Linked DNA regions of Homo sapiens: region 1 is linked to region 2. The links come from fine-mapping of genetic effects on gene expression. A gene starts in region 2. The other region holds a variant in brackets. All regions are shown on one strand. Distances are from middle to middle.

What was found. PIP is the estimated chance that this variant, and not a neighbour inherited with it, causes the effect.
Region 1: its variant is the best candidate, but not a certain one, in a credible set for the expression of RECQL5 in fibroblasts (GTEx, PIP 0.88).

The regions. Positions count from the first base shown.
Region 1 is chr17:75,615,132-75,623,131 of GRCh38, forward strand. It overlaps MYO15B (myosin XVB), which reads left to right. Exons shown (of 64, transcript NM_001395058.1): 34 at 109-207; 35 at 372-469; 36 at 562-753; 37 at 938-1,016; 38 at 1,181-1,315; 39 at 1,393-1,654; 40 at 1,743-1,830; 41 at 1,954-2,173; 42 at 2,679-2,791; 43 at 2,995-3,054; 44 at 4,012-4,087; 45 at 4,227-4,345; 46 at 4,550-4,668; 47 at 4,748-4,889; 6 more. Among named protein-coding and RNA genes, the nearest start is that of SMIM5, 14 kb to the right of the region's middle. The variant TG/T (reference allele first, on the strand shown) is at 5,000.
Region 2 is chr17:75,663,313-75,673,896 of GRCh38, forward strand. RECQL5 (RecQ like helicase 5) reads right to left here and starts at 3,842. Exons shown (of 20, transcript NM_004259.7): 1 at 3,732-3,842; 2 at 3,116-3,259; 3 at 1,739-1,860. The coding sequence starts at 3,245. SAP30BP (SAP30 binding protein) reads left to right here and starts at 4,026. Exons shown (of 11, transcript NM_013260.8): 1 at 4,026-4,166; 2 at 5,204-5,313; 3 at 8,504-8,551. The coding sequence starts at 4,061. RefSeq lists enhancers at 2,967-4,166, 3,748-3,847, 4,018-4,267.

The sequences.
Region 1 (8,000 bases), 49 kb before region 2:
TGCCCTGGCCAGCACCCCGGTGCCCGATGCTCTTCTCTGTGCCTGGGGCTGGAGGGAGGTGGCATGTGGGCCCAGGCAGGGACTGACAGGGAGGGCGTGTTCCCTCAGTGTACCCAGGAATGATTCAGATGCCTGCATACCAGCCAGGCATGGTCCCTGCACCCATGCCCATGATGCCAGCAATGGGCACAGTCCCTGCCATGCCAGGTAAGTCTGGGCTGGGGGCACCAGAGTCCCTTCTCAGGAGAGCAGCCACCAGCTCTGGGACTGGAGGAGGGAGGGTCCTGCTAGGAGTCCCGAGTGCACAGTGGGCAGCGAGCTTCAAGGCTGGCCATGGTGCCCACCACTCTGGCCGCCTGCCGCCCTCACAGCCATGGTGGTGCCGCCGCAGCCACCGCTTCCCAGCCTGGATGCAGGGCAGCTGGCCGTCCAGCAGCAGAACTTTATCCAGCAGCAGGCGCTAATCCTGGTGAGCGCTGGCAGGGCCCTGGGGCCACCTGGTGGAGGAGAGGTCTGTGGCTCGGGGATGAGGGTCTGAACTGGCTGCTCCTCCTGCTTCAGGCCCAGCAGATGACAGCCCAGGCCATGTCCCTGTCCCTGGAGCAGCAGATGCAGCAGCGGCAGCAGCAGGCTCGGGCCTCCGAGGCTGCGTCCCAGGCCTCACCCTCAGCCGTCACCTCCAAGCCCAGGAAGCCCCCCACACCCCCGGAGAAGCCACAGCGTGACCTGGGATCAGAGGGTGGCTGCCTGAGGGTGAGGAGGTGACCATATTCTCAGGAAGGGATGTGAGGGTGGGGACTGCAGGGGCAGGGGACATGGGCAGGGTGAGTAGGCAGACACAGGGAAGAGGCTGCTGGCCCAGGACTGGGGACCCGAGGGGTGTGGCGAGTGTGGCACCCAGGCTGGCTGAGCTGCCACTCATTTCTGCTTCTGCCAGGAGACCTCCGAGGAGGCTGAAGACAGGCCCTATCAGCCCAAGAGCTTCCAGCAGAAACGGAACTATTTCCAGAGGATGGGTGAGGGCACTTGGGGTGGCAGGACCGTGCAGAAACATGGCCAGTGCCCCTGGCCCGGGCCAGGGAGGGTGGGGTGTGCTCTGCTCCCCGGAGTTGGTGCGGCCCATCCAGGAGCCCAGCTGGGCCAGTATGGGTAACTTTGAAGGCCATCTGGACACTTGCAGGGCAGCCACAGATCACAGTGAGGACGATGAAGCCCCCGGCCAAGGTCCACATCCCCCAGGGGGAAGCGCAGGAGGAGGAGGAGGAGGAGGAGGAGGAGGAGGAGCAGGAGGAGCAAGAAGTGGAAACAAGAGCAGGTTGTGGGGAGCTGGGCAGGGCCTGGGGCTCCGGTGGCTCTGCACGCGGTTAACAGTCTTTCCTGTTTCCTGGTCAGTGCCGTCCCCTCCTCCTCCCCCCATCGTGAAGAAGCCATTGAAGCAAGGTGGGGCCAAAGCTCCAAAAGAGGCTGAGGCTGAGCCAGCCAAGGAGACAGCGGCCAAGGGCCATGGCCAAGGGCCAGCCCAAGGCAGGGGGACTGTGGTGCGCAGCTCAGACTCCAAGCCCAAGCGGCCACAACCCAGCAGGGAAATTGGCAACATCATCCGCATGTACCAGAGCCGCCCGGGCCCCGTGCCTGTGCCCGTGCAGCCATCCAGGTGGGCCCCCACGGGGAGGTGGCCAGGGCTGTCCCGCTCCTCGGGGAATCACCCTATGAACTTAGTGACCTCTTGCTTCTCCCACGAGGCCTCCCAAAGCTTTCCTGAGGAAAATCGACCCCAAGGACGAGGCTCTGGCCAAGCTGGGTATCAACGGTGCCCACTCGTCCCCGCCGGTGAGCACCCCAGCCTGTCTCCCCCAGAGTGTGTGCTGCTGCACTGGGGAGCTCAAGGCTCTCTGGGGCGAACTTGGCCTTGTGCTGTGACTCAGCCCGTGTACTTTCTCCGTATCCCCCCAGATGCTGTCCCCCAGCCCAGGAAAGGGCCCCCCGCCAGCTGTGGCTCCTCGACCCAAGGCCCCGCTACAGCTTGGGCCCTCTAGCTCCATCAAGGAAAAGCAGGGGCCCCTTCTGGACCTGTTTGGCCAGAAGCTGCCTATTGCCCACACACCCCCACCTCCACCAGCGCCACCACTGCCTCTGCCCGAGGACCCAGGGACCCTTTCAGCAGAGCGTCGTTGTAAGGAACCACATTTCTCCTGCGCCGTGGGCTTCACTGGGGCAGAGGCAGGGTTCGCACAGACTCTCGGTGCCCAGGGCTGAAGGCATTTCTGCGTGGCTGAGGCCAGCTGTTCGGGCTTCTGGACTTTGGAGCCATACGTAGCTGGGGAGTCCCAGCTTCCGCGTTCCCACCCAGGGCAGGGCCTGGGCATCTTTGGGGCTGTCATCGAGAGGCTGTCACACACAGGGTGTTGTCCCTGACACATACCCGACAGCTCTGTGAGGAAGTTAGTGGCCCTGGCTGACATGGTCATAGAAGACCCACGAGCCTCACGGACGCCAGGGAAAGTTTAGGGCCCAAAATGGAGGCAGGAGATGGTGCCATGGAAGGAGTAAGGCAGCTGGAGGTTGGGAGAGCCGGGCCCTTGGAAGGCTCGTGGGGATGAAGGTCTTCCCTCCCGTGCCCCCATCACTCTGGCTCTGCAGCCCCTCACTGAGGCTCCTCACCCCCTCCTCTCTGCCAGGCTTGACACAGCCCGTGGAGGACCAGGGGGTCTCCACCCAGCTACTCGCGCCCTCTGGCAGCGTGTGCTTCTCCTACACCGGCACGCCCTGGAAGTTGTTCCTACGCAAGGAGGTGGGCATGAGGGTGGGGCCTTGGCCTGGCCTCTTTGGGCTGGCAGGGAGGCGGCAGGCTTTGTGCATCCCAGCCTGGGACCCCAGCATCCCCTCCCCACAGCCCACCATCTCAAGGCTGATTTTCCAGGCCTGGGAGGGCAGAGGCTTGCTGGGAAGAGGCACCAGACCCACCGATCTTTGCCCTTCTGTGCCCTCCTCCAGGTGTTCTACCCACGGGAGAACTTCAGCCATCCCTACTACCTGAGGCTCCTCTGTGAGCAGGTGAGAGCTGGCCCACCTGCCAGCCTGAGACATCTGCAGAGACAGCATCCTTCGTGCCCTTTGTCTAATGGCTGGGCCAGGTTAACACCACGTAGGGCATGTTGGCAGCCAGCACTGGGGGGCACTTCTGTGTGCCCAGACCTGCCTTCATTGAACCTTCACAACATTCCTGAGAAGTAGGGACCATGGCCAGGTGCGGTGGCTCATGCCTGTAATCCCAGCACTTTGGGAGGCCAAGGCAGGTGGATCATGAGGTCAGGAGTTCGAGACCAGTCTGGCCAACATGGTGAAACTCCATGTCTATTAAAAATACAAAAATCAGGCGTGGTGGCACGCACCTGTAACCCCAGCTACTTGGGAGGCTGAGGCAGGAGAATTGCTTGAACCCGGGAGGCAGAGGTTGTAGTGAGCCGAGATTGTGCCACTGCACTCCCGCCTGGGTGACAGAGCGAGACTGTGTCTCAACAACAACAAGAAGTAGGGACCATTATTCATCTAGTTTTATAGATAAAGTTTAAAAGCAAAGTGCGTACAGTGCACAACACAGGCTCTAGCACACAGTAGGTACTTAATAAATGGTTGTCACTTTGCCACCTCTGAACGCTCCCAGGAGTGAGCCTCTGTTCCCCCTAATTCTGCAGTAGCACCTGCCCCCTGCCCCGAACAATCTTGTATCTGGGCTGATCCAAGGGCAGTTACCACGGGGTCTCTGGGCAGTGAGTGAAAAGGGAGGGCTGGCAGTTGCAGGGGAGGGGACAGGTGAGACGTGTGAATGGAGGTGGCCCAAGCCCTCCATCCCTCCCTGCCCCACCTAGGCCCTCTGCTGAGCACACAGGCCATGGGGGCCAGGGCGCCCTCCATCGGCCTCCTCAGGTTTTCCTTCATGCATGTGGATGGCTGCTCTGGGGGTGGGCTCTGTCTCAGGACCTGGTGGTGACCACCTCGCTCTGCCCCCAGATCCTACGGGACACCTTCTCCGAGTCCTGTATCCGGATTTCCCAGAATGAGCGGCGGAAAATGAAAGACCTGCTGGGTATGGGTCCAGGGACCATGGAGTTGGGAGCTTGAGTGCTGGGGGCCGCGCCTGCCCTGAAGGAGGGAGCAGCATGGGAGCAAACTCTAGAGCCCCCTCTGTGTGAGCAGAGGGCAGCCTGGGTCCTTCCTGCCCACAGGAGGCTTGGAGGTGGACCTGGATTCTCTCACCACCACCGAAGACAGCGTCAAGAAGCGCATCGTGGTGGCCGCTCGGGACAACTGGGCCAATTACTTCTCCCGCTTCTTTCCTGTCTCGGTCAGTGGCGCTGGGGTAGGGAGTAGGGATGCCAGGCCCCCAGCCTGGATCCTGGGGTGCATGGGCACAGACCACAAGCAGGAGAGCCGGGGAGCAGACGCCAGGGGAAGGACAAAGCCCAGCCACTGGCCCTGGGCAGCTCCAGGGCATCTTGGGCAGTAGCAGGACCCAGGAGACTGCCCGAGACCCACCACCTTCCTGTAGGGCGAGAGTGGCAGCGACGTGCAGCTGTTAGCCGTGTCCCACCGTGGGCTGCGACTGCTCAAGGTGACCCAAGGCCCCGGCCTCCGCCCCGACCAGCTGAAGATTCTCTGCTCATACAGGTGCGCTAGCCCACGACCCTGGGCTAGAGGTGGGGGCAGGTGGCAAGGTGACCTCAGTTCATGCCCGATCCCTGCGCAGCTTTGCGGAGGTGCTGGGTGTGGAGTGCCGGGGCGGCTCCACCCTGGAGCTGTCACTGAAGAGCGAGCAGCTGGTGCTGCACACAGCCCGGGCAAGGGCCATCGAGGCGCTGGTTGAGCTATTCCTGAATGAGCTTAAGAAGGTAAGTGTGGGGCACGGGTTGAGAGGCCGGGCAGACAGCCCTCACCGATGCTGCATCTCCCTGTCCGTCTTCCCTGTGGGGGCAGGGGCTGGGAGTTTGGGCCAAATCCC[TG/T]GAAGTCTGGGGTGCTAGGTGGAGGGGCAGGCCAGCAGGGGGAGCAGGTGGGCAGGCAGGACAGGGAGGCACAGGCAGACTTGCTGCTCCAGGCCCTCGCCTGCTTGCCCACAGGACTCCGGCTATGTCATCGCCCTGCGCAGCTACATCACTGACAACTGCAGCCTCCTCAGCTTCCACCGTGGGGACCTCATCAAGCTGCTGCCGGTGGCCACCCTGGAGCCAGGTATCGCCAGAGGCCGGCAGGGGCTCACACAGGGAGGGCATCCACTTGGCAGAGGCTGCCCGGGGGCAGAGGGTCCAGTGGGTGAGCCACATCCCTGGGTGCCTTCCAGGCTGGCAGTTTGGCTCTGCCGGGGGCCGTTCCGGACTCTTTCCTGCCGACATAGTGCAGCCGGCTGCCGCTCCCGACTTTTCCTTCTCCAAGGAGCAGAGGAGTGGCTGGCACAAGGGTCAGCTGTCCAACGGGGAACCAGGGCTGGCTCGGTGGGACAGGGCCTCAGAGGTGAGGAAGATGGGAGAGGGACAAGCAGAGGCAAGGCCTGCCTGAGACTGAGGAAGGAAAGGGGTTTGACCACTCCCGAGGCTGCCATGCGGTGGGACCACCCTGCTGTCCGTCTCCTGTGGCTGCCCCTCTGCCCGCTCCTGATGGCTCGCCTTGTCTCTCCAGCAAGACTGTGCACTCCTTGCAGGCAGGGGCTGGGCTGGATGCTGCTCTTGTGTCCCACGTGGTACTTAGTTCAAGGCTGCCCCAGCAGATGCTTAATAAACAGCTCTTCACTTTCCTGGCTTCTGGTCTTGCTCCTTTGGTGTCTGGCTGGGGAGGGATGGGGCTGGGGCAGGACCCCTGGGACAGGGCACTGGACACTCAGGTGGCACCAGGTTTCTTGTGATCCCAGCGCCCTGCCCACCCTTGGAGCCAGGCACACAGTGACGACTCGGAGGCCACCAGCCTGTCCTCTGTGGCCTATGCCTTTCTGCCCGACTCCCACAGCTACACCATGCAGGAATTCGCCCGGCGTTACTTCCGGAGGTCCCAGGCCTTGTGAGTGCACTGGGCCAACCCCTGTGCCTGTCTGTCCTCAGTCTTCCTGAGAGAGAGCACCCTGCTCAGAGCCACTGGGCTGTGCTCTTAGCACTCTCCCTGCCTGGCTGGCTGGGATGAAGGCAGGAGGGCCAAACAAGCTGGGCTGTCTCCCTCTGCCCCCCACAGGCTGGGCCAGACTGATGGAGGTGCCGCAGGAAAGGACACGGACAGCCTGGTGCAGTACACCAAGGTGGGAGAGAGGCAGGGAGGGGTCTGGCCCGTAGATCTGCCCTCTGACCCCCACGGCCCCCCAGACCCATGGCCTCCTCTCTTTGGCCACAGGCTCCCATCCAGGAGTCGCTCCTCAGCCTCAGTGATGATGTGAGCAAGCTGGCTGTAGCCAGCTTCCTGGGTGAGTGGCCACAGGCATCCTGGGTCCCCATGTCTGCAGTGCCATGAACCTGGGTGTCTGGTCCCCTTATCTCCTTGAGCTCTGCCTGGCTCTGTCCCAGTCTGCCAACTCCGGGAAGCTCACTGGTGGTTCCTGGACCCCAGGGCCCTCACCCGCTTCTACTCCCACTCAAGGGTTGTGGGTTGTGTGGAGTCTGGGGTTGGAAGGCAGTCCATGGGTCCAGAGGATGCTATGTGCTGTGTGGGGCCTTGGATACCCAGGAGCCTCAGTTTCCCCATGAGTCGAGCTGCAACCAGCTGCCCTGGCTGGCATCTATGCATTTTGAGAGTGAGGCATCAGATGGCAGGTGAAGGCCCTGCACAGCAACAGCATGAGCCGGGGCCAGCCCCAGCACAGCCCCAGCTATGTGCCCTGTTTCTTATCGTGCCTGCAGCCCTGATGCGGTTTATGGGTGACCAGTCCAAGCCCCGGGGCAAGGATGAGATGGATCTGCTCTATGAACTGCTGAAGGTAAGCCTGGGCTGTGCGACCCCCAGCGCCTGTGCCTGTCCTCCTGTCTGGGCCTGAAGGAGATCCCCTTCTCTTGGTCACTGTCCTTCAAATCATTCCAAAGTATTTACTGAGCACCCATTGCGTGCAGGGGGGTGTGGCTGTGAAGCCAACAGGCTAAGTCTCTGCAGTGCTTACAATGAGATAACTTATGTGTCTGGGAGTGAGAGGTCACTGGAGAGTAAGAATGCAGGGAAGGGGCTGCTGCAGTGGAGAAGGCTTTGTGGCAGAAGCCTTCCTACAGGGAGGGAAGGAGTGAGCACGGGGTGACAGAGAAGGGCAGGCAACAGTTCAGATGTGGGGGGAAGCCTCGGCACCATCACGCACCGGGACCAGCGTGGCTGAGCCTAGTGAGCTGCAGGGAGAACGGAGGATGAGGATGGGGAGCGGATGGTGGGTCCAGGCCACCACAGGCCTTGTAGCCATCATTGGCCTCTGATTTTTGGAGAGATGGGAAACCACCAGAGGATTCTGGAGAGAGACTCGGCTTACATTTCACAGGGTCACTCGGCTGTTGTTTGAGATTCTGGGTGTCTAAGTTTAAAAGCAAAAGGAAGTTATTGCAGTGGTCCCAGGTGAGGGATGGTGCTGGCAGCAAGGGAGAAGCAGAAGATTGAGCCAGCAGAGTGTGCTGACCAATTGCATGTGGGCTACGGGAAGGAGGACAACTACTGTCTTCAAGGAGCAGGTCTTGGCTGGTGGAGGAAATCTGTTTTGGACACGTGAGGTCTGAAATCCCAGACTTCCCAGTGGAGGAGTCTGGGGTTCAAGGGAGAAGGCTGGAGGCAGGCACCAGGAGTCATCAAATGGGACCAGCTGAGGACACGGGGAGAAGGGCAGACAGAGAGAGGTTCAAGGGCACAGCACCGCTCAGAGGTCAGGGAGTTAAGGTGGAGCCAGCAGAGATGAGTAAGAGATCAGAGAAGCAGGGGCCGGGCGCGGCGGCTCCCGCCTGTAACCCCAGCACTTTGGGAGGCCGAGGCAGGTGGATCACCTGAGGTAGGAGTTGCAG
Region 2 (10,584 bases):
TGTAATTTTATATATTTTTAATAATTTTGACATGACGTTGTGCACATGTACCTAGAACTTAAAGTATAATAAAAAATATATATTAAAAATAATAATAATAATTTTGTGCATGAAAAAACAGTTTTGGCTGAGTTTTGACCGCAACCCATCACATGAGGTCAGAAAGGTGTGGAACTTTCCACTTGTGGAATCACGTCAGCACTAAAATTTTTTGGATTTTGGAGCATTTCAGATTTCAGATTTTTGCTTTAGGGATGCTCAATCTCTATGGAAGGTGAAGTGGTTTAGAGCACAGGCTCTGAAGTCAGACAGACTTCAGATTTAGATTTCATCCTGGCTCACTTAATCGCCACATGCTCGCTGGCTGTTTCTTACCCTCTGAACGATTTATACAATTCTATCTAATAGCATTGTTGTATAACTTAAAATTTACATCTGAGAGGTGAAATTAACGTATGTAAGCCGGGCGCGGTGGCTCACACCTGTAATTCCAGCGCTTTGAGAGGCTGAGGCGGGCAGATCACCTGAGGTCAGGAGTTCGAGATCAGACTGACCAATATGGTGAAACCCTGTCTCTACTAAAAATACAAAATTAGCCAGGCATGGTGGCGCATGCCTGTAATCCCAGCTACTCGGGGGACTGAGGCAGGAGAACTGCTTGAACCCGGGAGGCGGAGGTTGCGGTGAGCCGAGAACACGCCATTGCACTCAAGCCCGGGCAACAAGAGCGAAACTCCATCTCAAAAAAAAAAAAAAAAAAAGAAAGAAAGAAATTAATGTATGTAAAGCACTTAGCACGAAGCCTGGGACCTGGTGAACATTCACCAAGTTATTACTGTAGTTCCCTCTCTACCTTCCTTCATGGTGGATGGCTCTTACCCACACAGCCACACTTCCTCAATTCTGATTCTATCAGCCCATCTGCAGGCCTTAAATAGTCAGAACACCTGTAGAGCAGATGTTAATAAGGTCCCAGACAGTTTCTCATCTTTTTTTCTGTTTCACATACTGTGCCCTTACCAAAATAAGCAGGACACCAGGGATTCCCCATATCAACTTAGCTATCTATCCATCTGCAACTTCTGTCTCAACATCACGAGTGCACGTGTGTGTATACATGAGACTGAGTGTATATGTGTGTACAAATACAGTTTCATACTCCTCTGAACAAAAAAATAACAAAGGAGGGTGAGGGACCTCAGAGGAGTCATTCATAACCTCCCAGAGTGATATGCACCAGTGGAGAACACTACATTGGGGAAATACAGAAACCCAATATAGCGAATGAGATAGGCAAATCATAGAAAATAAGAGGCAGGGGCGGGTGTGGTGGCTCACACCTGTAATCCCAGCACTTTGGGAGGCCGAGGTGGGCGGATCATTTGAGGTCAGGAGTTTGAGACCAGCCTGGCCAACATGGTGAAACCTCATCTCTACTAAAAATACAAAAATTAGCCGGGTATGGTGGCATACACCTGTAATCCCAGCTATATGGGGGGCTGAGGCACAAGAATTGCTGGAAGCCGGGAGGTGGAGGCTGCAGTGAGCCAAGATCGCACCACCGCACTTCAGCCTAGGCGACAGAGTAAGACTCTGTCTCAAAAAAAAAAAAAAAAAAGGAAAAAGAAAAAGAAAAGAAAATAAGAGGCAAAAGACCAATAGAGAAGTGAAATTTCCAGCCTCAAAAAACCTTCCCCGAATCTTTTTGGGCTACCATCTTCATTGCCCTAAGCCTCACCTGAATCAAAGCAATGAGAGGAGAGACTACAATGGTGATGCCTTTGGCCAACAGAGCAGGGAGCTGATAGCATAGGGATTTTCCTGCCCCTGTGGGCATGCACACAAAGACGTCCTTGTTACCTGAAAAAATACAAGACAACAATATCTCAGTGCTTCCTGCCTTTTCATTGAAGTTGTTGAAAATTAAATGAGAATGTAGGAAAAGCACCTAGCAGAGTGTCTGGCACATGGGAGGGTCTCGATGTAATCCTAATTCCCCTCCTGTCCTTTCTATGAAAAAGGCAAGGATCCTGGGAAACTTGGATACATGCCCAAACCATTTCTAGTAATGGTTAAAAACAAGATTTAAAAAGTCTGGGTCAAGCGCAGTGGCTCACGCCTGTAATCCCAGCACTTTGGGAGGCTAAGGCAGGCAGATCACGAGGGCAAGAGTTTGAGACCAGCCTGGCCAACATGGTGAAACTCTGTCTCTACTAAGAATACAAAAATTACCCAGGCATGGTGGCACGTGCCTGTAATCCCAGCTACTCAGGAGGCTGAAGCAGGAGAATTGCTTGAACCCAGGAGGCGGAGGTTGCAGTGAGCCGAGATCGCGCCACTGCACTCCAGTGTGGGCGACAGAGCAAGACTCTGTTTCAAAAAAAAAAAAAAAAAAAAAGAAGTCTGAGTCTGCTGTGATATGGATGATTGAACTAAACAGCCATGAAAGCAGAGTACTGCTAGATGAGTGGGTACATCTGTGTAGACATGAGAGGACATTACTTAGAGGGCTTTTGTTTAGACATGTATCATTAATATTACATTGCTGCTCGCCTCTTGGCAACTTCCATTTGTCACCGTATCTCAGGTTTATAACATTATTACTCTTTCCTTCTCTATCTGGGACCAAGGCCACTCAACCTGCAACAAGGGAATTACCTAGGAGGCCAGTGACCGAGTTAAGTTATTCCTACCACCCTCACTGTTGCTGTTCGTTTGTGTGTACAAACGAACAATAATGAGAATCTGAAGTGTTTTCAAAGACCATGTGTAAATCTAGCTATGAAATATAGACCAGCTGGGTGGTTCTGCCACTAAAACTACAAGCTTTGGGCCGGGCGTGGTGGCTCATGCTTGTAATCCCAGCACCTTGGGAGGCCGAGGTGGGAGGATTGCCTGAGCCCAGGATTTGGAGACCAGCCTGAGCAACATGCCAAGACCCCATCTCTAATTAAAACAAATAAACGAAACTACAAGCTTTGACAACTCTAAAGATTTCCAAATCCAGTTATGGACCAAAGGTGAGGCAGTACGAAGGGTGAGGAGGAGGGTGTTCTGCCGCAGCGTTATGGTATAGCCAGCATAAATTTAAAGGAAGGTAGCTTGGTAATGTTACCTTTTACTACAGCCATGGTCGCACTCTCCTGTAAAGGCGTCTTAAAAGAGTCAAACCCAAAGACCTTCTTCAGCGTACTCCGGACTCGCCGCTCAGGGTCAAAAGGAAAGGTGGTATGGTGGCTGCTCATCTTAGCCAAGAACAGTGGCCAAAGGTTAAGGCAAAGGTAGTAAAAGGTTGCCACGAGAACCCTCTGTTTTGCATTAAAAATACAGATTATTTTTCTGTAACAATTTGCTATATTACACTTAAATAATGTATTATTTTTAAGTAATAAAGCTGAAGGTGAACTGCCTCAAGCAATACATTCCTCAGTAATTAACATCTCCACTTTTACGCTCAATGAAAATGAAAACATTGAACTATTCCAGGCCACGGTATAGCACAGAGCTAGAAATCAGATCAAGAGAAGAAACATAAATGTCTTCAGAACAGCTTGGAGAACGGGGAACCGTTTTCCTAAGATCCACCACCTGCTCCTACTTCTATAAGCGCAACCACGACGACCGTTCTTCCACCCCGGGACCCCGAACCCCTTCTCCCGTCTTCCTGAGCCCAAGATCCGCAATTTTCTCTCTTGGCTGGCCGACACCTCCCTCTCTTCACCCTAAGATATCAGAACCGGCCGTGGTCCGCCCAAGAATTAAAGGCTGCTGGCTGGTTCCGGAACTGTTCGAAGACCCCTATACACAACCCCAACTCAGAGAAGCCAAAGCGCTGGGAATTCAGCTTTAGGCAGAACCCACGCAATCTTATATCCGTCGCGCAGTGATGACGTAGCGCGAGCGCTGGCATGAGGGCGGAGCCAGGCGCAGGAAACTGCCGTTTTGATTGGTTTCCAGTGTGGCGCGGGGGTCTCCTGGGATCCGAAAGAACCTGCCTTTCCGCCCGGAAGTCGGCGTCTTGAGTCATAGGAGTGAGCCACGCCCGGGCTGTGGGAATAAGATGGCGGGGAAGAAGAATGTTCTGTCGTCTCTCGCAGTTTACGCGGAAGATTCAGAGCCCGAGTCTGATGGCGAGGCTGGAATCGAGGCGGTGGGCAGCGCGGCTGGTAAGGCCCAAGTGCGAAGCTGGAAGGGGGAATCGGGTGTCTGCCCGGAATGCTGTACCCTCGCTGGGCGGGAGGGAACAAGATGGTCATTGTGCTCCAAGCACCGGACCCCGAAGAATGGTCCAGGGTCCGGGGTGAGATAGAGCATTAGAGACTGTGGACTAAGAATGAAGAATCTCCTTCCCGTTATTTCGATTAATTTGCCTAAACTTACTGAAAGACTCCGTGCCGGCTATAGTGATAGACAGAGGGATGGACGAAGAGGGAGCGGCTGCTCAGCCACTGCCTGTTTCCCCTGGGCTCGTTGTTTGATGAGGGAGAGCGATAAGTAAAACATACGTGGAAGATGGTAAAGATTGTGTTCGTTAACTTTATAACTTTTAGTTAGGAATGTGCCCTAAACACATCTTGGAGCTTTTAAAAACAAACGTATCTGATGCCCAAAGTGAGAGAACCTAATTCGGTAGAACTGGGGTAGGATGTGGGCATTTGTGAACTTTTTAAGGATCCCAGGTGATTTTTCTTATTTTGTGAGTTTTTAAAGCCTAACGGTGATGTTCTCCTCCTCAGGTTGAGAAGCACAATGTTAGATAATGGAAACAGATTCCTTTGGGAGAATAAAGAACAAGTTACCTAACAACATATCAGGACCTTAGCTTCCTCATCTGGAAAGTGAAGGGGATTGGATTAGGTTAGGTACTTCCATGTTTTGTGATTTTGTGTGGTCTCTTCCAGTCAGAAAGTTCTCTGATGGTTTCCTATAAACACTTTAGTGTTTATCTAGTGTTTATAGCATTAGAAACAGAATTTAGTACTCGGTTTTGTTCCCTGACCTTTTAATGATTTTATTCAGTAAATGCTGGCCTTCTCAGAGAGCCGAATCTGGGCCTATTGTAACTTAACATGAGATTTAGGTTCCCTTTGTATCTTCAGAGATAGTCTTGGCCACTCAAATCTCTGGACATTTTTTCTTACATTGTAACTCTTGTTTTTTTTTTCTTGCTTTTTGTTTGTTTGTTTGTTTTTTAACCTTTCAGAGGAGAAAGGCGGATTGGTATCTGATGCCTATGGGGAGGATGACTTTTCTCGTCTAGGGGGTGATGAAGATGGTTATGAAGAAGAAGAAGATGAGAACAGTAGACAGTCGGTAGGTAAATCTCCCAGATCCAGAGCTACTGAAAGCACAATTTCATTTGTCAGATTTTGGAACTGTGCCAACAGTGTTCCATTTCATGGTTAGCTCCATCCCTTGCTCTCCCGTTTTGTTTTAGTATTAGTGGAAGAAACTGGATTGGATATCAGATCTGTTTGAAAATGTATTTTCACATGGATCATTTTTTATTAATCTTTGAATTGAAATTTGGGGGAAAAGATAGTGGATTATTTTATTTAACCCAGATATCAATGGGTGTTTTATGTTGATTTTTCCCTGTTTAAATGATTTACTCCATTTATAGCAGGCATTCATCCTAACTGGTGTATCATTTATATCTACAGTCAACTCTGCATTATTTTTAATCTTGGTTGGGGCTCATTTAAGTCTTCTCAGTTTATTAACAAGATAAGAAAGGAAAATTCGTTTTCACCTGCTTTTTCTTTTCTTTTTTTTTTTTGAGATAGGGTCTCACTCTGCTGTCCAGATTGGAGTGCAGTGGTGTGATCATAGATAGTTCACTACAGTCTTGAACTCCTGGGCGCAAGTGATCCTCCCACCTCAGCCTACCCAGTAGCTGGGACTACAGGTGGGCGCCACCATGCCTAGCTAACCTATTATTATTTTTTTTTGTCGGAATCTTGCTCTGTCGCCCATGCTGGAGTGCAGTGGTGCGATCTCTGCTCACTGCAACCTCCACCTCCCAGGTTCAAGCAATTCTCCTGCCCTCAGCCTCCTGAGTAGCTGGGATTACAGACACCTGCCATCACGCCTGGCTAATTTTTGTATTTTTCACAGAGACGGTTTCACCATGTTGGCCATTCTGGTCTCTAACTCCTGACCTCAGGTGATCCACCCGCCTCATCCTTCCAAAGTGCTGGGATTACAGGCGTGAGCCACTGCTCCTGGCCGATTTTTAAAATTTAAAAAAAAATTTTTTGTAGAGACGTTGTTTCACTATGTTTCCCAGTCTGGTTTCAAACTTCTGGCCTCAAGCAATTCCCCTGCCTCACCCTCCCAAAGTGCTGGGATTACAGGTATGAGCCACCATCCCTGGCCTTCTTAACTTCTTTCTTGACATTTTATTTGGCACTTTTTATAATGGTGCCCTTAGTTCTTGATCACAAATCTTGCCTGAAGTTCAGTAGGTGCTGGAGAAAGGAGAACCTGTGCTATTATTAACAAGAAAGTCTTTAGACACATAATCACCTGAGCAACATGAGCCAGAATTTAAGTTTGCAGAAAACGCAAGGAAATTGAAGTTGGTGCTTAGCATAAGACAGGCAGAGTTGAGTCTAGATGTCAAATCTGACTGCTTAGCAAGTTTTAATTAAATCACTTAAAATATATTATTTGTTTGAAATTTTTGTTACATGTTGGTATGTAAATGTTAGCATTAAAATTCTTTCCAGCCAAGCACGGTGGCTCATGCCTGTAATCCCAGCACTTTGGGAGGCTGAGGTGGGCGGATCACAAGGTCAGGAGATCAAGACCATCTTGGCCAACATGGTGAAACCCCATCTCTACTAAAAATACAATAATTAGCAGGGCATGGTGGTACGCACCTGTAGTCCCACCTACTCGGGAGGCTGAGGCAGGAGAATCGCTTGAACCCGGGAGGCGGAGGTTGCAGTGAGCCGAGATCACGCCACTGCACTCCAGCCTGGGCAACAGAGCCAGACTCCATCTTAAAAAAAAAAAAAATTATTTCCACAACAAACAGAAATGCGTTTTGTACATGATGCATTTTGGGAGATACTTTCATGCCTTTAGCCCCATCCATTAATATTGATAATTCAGAGTTGACTGAAATTATTCAGAAAAGTTTTGCAAGTTGTTTTCTGACTTTTCTGAAGTACACACATTCTGGCTTAATATTCATAACTCTTTTCTTTAGTACGTTTGCATAATGTGTTTTTGAAGTGTTATTTCATATTTGCTTTGCTTAGAATTTTCATCATGTTTAAGCTTCATTTCATATTTTAGTAAAATCCTCTCATCAGATCTTGTTGTAGAGATTCTGAAATGTGATTGTATTTGTCTGAGCTCCATCTCTGTTTATTTGGCATGACTGATTTCATTTTAAGGAGATTATGGAGATTGCATTTAAAGCCTTGGACTCACTGGTACCTTACAGGACAGTTAAGTCTCCAAATCATGAGTCTAGTTTGTTCAAGTCTCTCGAGTGGTATTTATATTAATATATGGAGTGCTGTGTAATGTTTGGGCTGAAATGTAGCTTTGTTGAAAATAGTAGTTTCAAATGAAACCATTTTTTCCTGGGTATTTAGTTAAAGGCTTCTGTGCATTGGGAGTGTTCTGGGTAGTGGAGGTGACATGGATTTAGCCAGCTAATAAGGTAGCTGGTCCAGCATCTGCTCCTGATCTTTGACCTTCATAGCATCAGCGTTAGCGTTCAGTGGAATGGCGGGCTCGCTTTGGAGAATGCCTTACCGTGTGTGATCCTTTGTGTCAGGCTGACCTCATCTGGATAAGGAACAGGACTGGGTAGAATGGATCACTGGCAGTTCTGTGAGCACTTAGGTGGAGGCAGAGCCCACTCAACTGGGACTCCTGAAAGGTTGGGCATTGCCCTTTAGTCCTGCCTTTCCCAGGTCACTTGCTCAGGTAGTTTGATGCCTGCCTTCCTGTGTTGATGTTTGTGCAAATGCCGGTTGAGGTGCTGCGATACAGCTGTGTGTAAGCCTTGGCACTTGGTGTTGGACACTGTTAGAGTAGGTCCGAGTCTGATGTACATGTGTATATGAAAAGGAAAGAAGGCTCATAATCCTGATTTGAAATAACTGATACTTCAGTGGAAACACGATGCCTGTTTTATTGTGTGGCCTGATCTTACTCTTTCCTAAAACATATTGCAAGCTTTCTCCATTTTTATGTATGTGACTTTGAACTCGGGCATCTTCATTGATGTGGACTGTCTCACCACTAAAGTAACTTGACTTTGAGCTGCTGATGCTTTTTTGTTTTTTGTTTTTTTCCCCTCCAGAATATCTCTTTTTCCCCTTATTTTTCTCTGGTTCTGAGTTATATGGTAGGGGAGGGATTCTTGGTGGGATGACCCCAGCTGGGTAAATGGGCTGTTTGCTCCGGCCCCTAGTTATGCATGTGAGACTCCTCAGGCCCGCTCCTTTAAGCTTAATCCTCTAAATTCTTTGTCTTGTAGGAAGATGACGATTCAGAGACTGAAAAACCTGAGGCTGATGACCCAAAGGTATTTGGTGTTGGCTGTGGTGGGTGGCTGGATGCAAACAAGGTGTTTGAACACTGTGGCTCAGTTCGTATGTTTGGTCAAGATCTGTCCCACTGACAAACTGTGCAACTGTGTGGACATTTTCTGGGATAAAATAAGCTTTATAAAGAAAGAACCTGGAGACAACTCAGGAATGAACAAATCCTGAGACACATTGGATTTCCAGCCTTTCAGATTGTGCCATATCTCCTGACTAGAAAGGCGAGAGGCCTGGCTGAGGCCAACAACCCACTTGCATTCTGCATCCCAGATGGGGCTTTAAGTGTCACTGCCCTGCAGGTGGATTAGTCTGTTTCTAGACCCAGGAAGGTGTAAGGGCCGCCTCGCGTGCTTTGGGTTCTCTTTAGTCATCTAGAAGTGAACAAGAGGCTATAAGAAGGTCAGACCAAAATGAGGCCTCTCCCCAGCTCTCAGGGATGGTGGGTCTAATGCTCATTTTCCTGGGGGTGTGTCCATCCACTTTTGGGCAAGCTGTACAGAATGGTCTTTTTCGGAACAACATAACTATTCTCATAGTGTCATCCTAGTAGCAGCCAAGAGTAATTTGTAGCAATTCCTATCACATTCCATAATGATCTGTTGTGAAGGTTAAGACACCCTTGTGTTGGTTAAGCTGCTGTGCTGTGCATTGGCCATTAGAAATGTGTACTTGCTGAAGAGTCATTTTTTATGAGGAAAAACTTCCCCCCTGTACCCCCAAAGAAAAAGACTTAATTATATCACTCTAGACCCGGGGAATAAGGACCCATTTTGCAGTTAAAAACTGCTTTGAGGCCAGCCGCAGTAGCTCACGCCTGTAATCCCAGCACTTTGGGAGGCTGAGGCGGGAGGATCACTTGAGGTCAGGAGTTCAAGACCAGCCTGGCCAGTATGGTGAAACCCCGTCTCTACTAAAAATACAAAAATTAACTGGTGAGACTGGTGGGTGGTGCACACCTGTGATCCCAGCTACTGGGGAAGCTGAGGCAGGGGAATTACTTGAACCTGGGAGGCAGAGGTTGCAGTGAGCCATGATCTGCCAATGCACTCCAACCTGGGCAACAGAATGAGAATCTGTCTCAAAAAAAAAAACAAAAAAAAACTGCTTGGAAACCAGCTGTAACTTTCAAGATGACCTAGTAAAATTTAGGAAATTTATGCCCAATTAAAATCTAAAACAGTAATATTCTTGAAAATATAGTGTGAGCTGTTCCATATTTGAGCTGATTCTGTGATTGGATAGAACTGTATGTAGCCACTAAAATCTTGAGACGTTGTGAGTGAGAAAGATAAGAGTGTGTTTTACCAGGAAAGAAAGTTTTGGCGCCAGCATGCAGGAGGGAAAAAAAAGAACCCCTGAAAACTGTAAATGCAACCTGCTTTCTATGCTGAGTGAAAAACCTGGAACCCAGGCCTGAGAACTCGCCCTGCCTGAGAACTGGCAAGATGGTATGGGCAGACCCATGGCCCCATAGTTCAAAGTCAGTCACAGCTCTCCTCGGGCTTGCAGAACAAAACACTCAGTAGTGATAATCTTCTCTGCCTAGTATTTAGGGTATGTGGGACTTGGAGCCTGCACGTAAAACAAGCCCAGGGAGCCGTTAAGTGTTTGGGTTTCAGTTGTGGAGGGAAGGGAGGATCTGGGTCCTAGAGTCTTTCTGGGTACAGTTGCAGCCTTTTCTTAGGGCTGGAAGGCTTCCTGGGGAAGTTGGCTGGAGAGGAGGGTACATAACACTTAACGGTCACCCCTTCTAAAATACTGTAATCCAGGCAACAAATCCTTGGGAGATGACAGGGCTTTGTGAGTCAGGGTGGGGGTCACATGAAAAACAAAACAGACTTTACTGCTGTCCAGTAGCAGTCACTAAAGAGCGGGGTGGGAGGGACCCAAAAAAGGTGAAGCTGGGAAGATTGTGGAAATGCCTTTTGTGCTCAGGCTCCCCTTCTCAGCCCTACATCACGGCTGACAGCCTCGTCATTCCTGCCTGCTCCTTGACTGATGTGCTTCGCTGTTC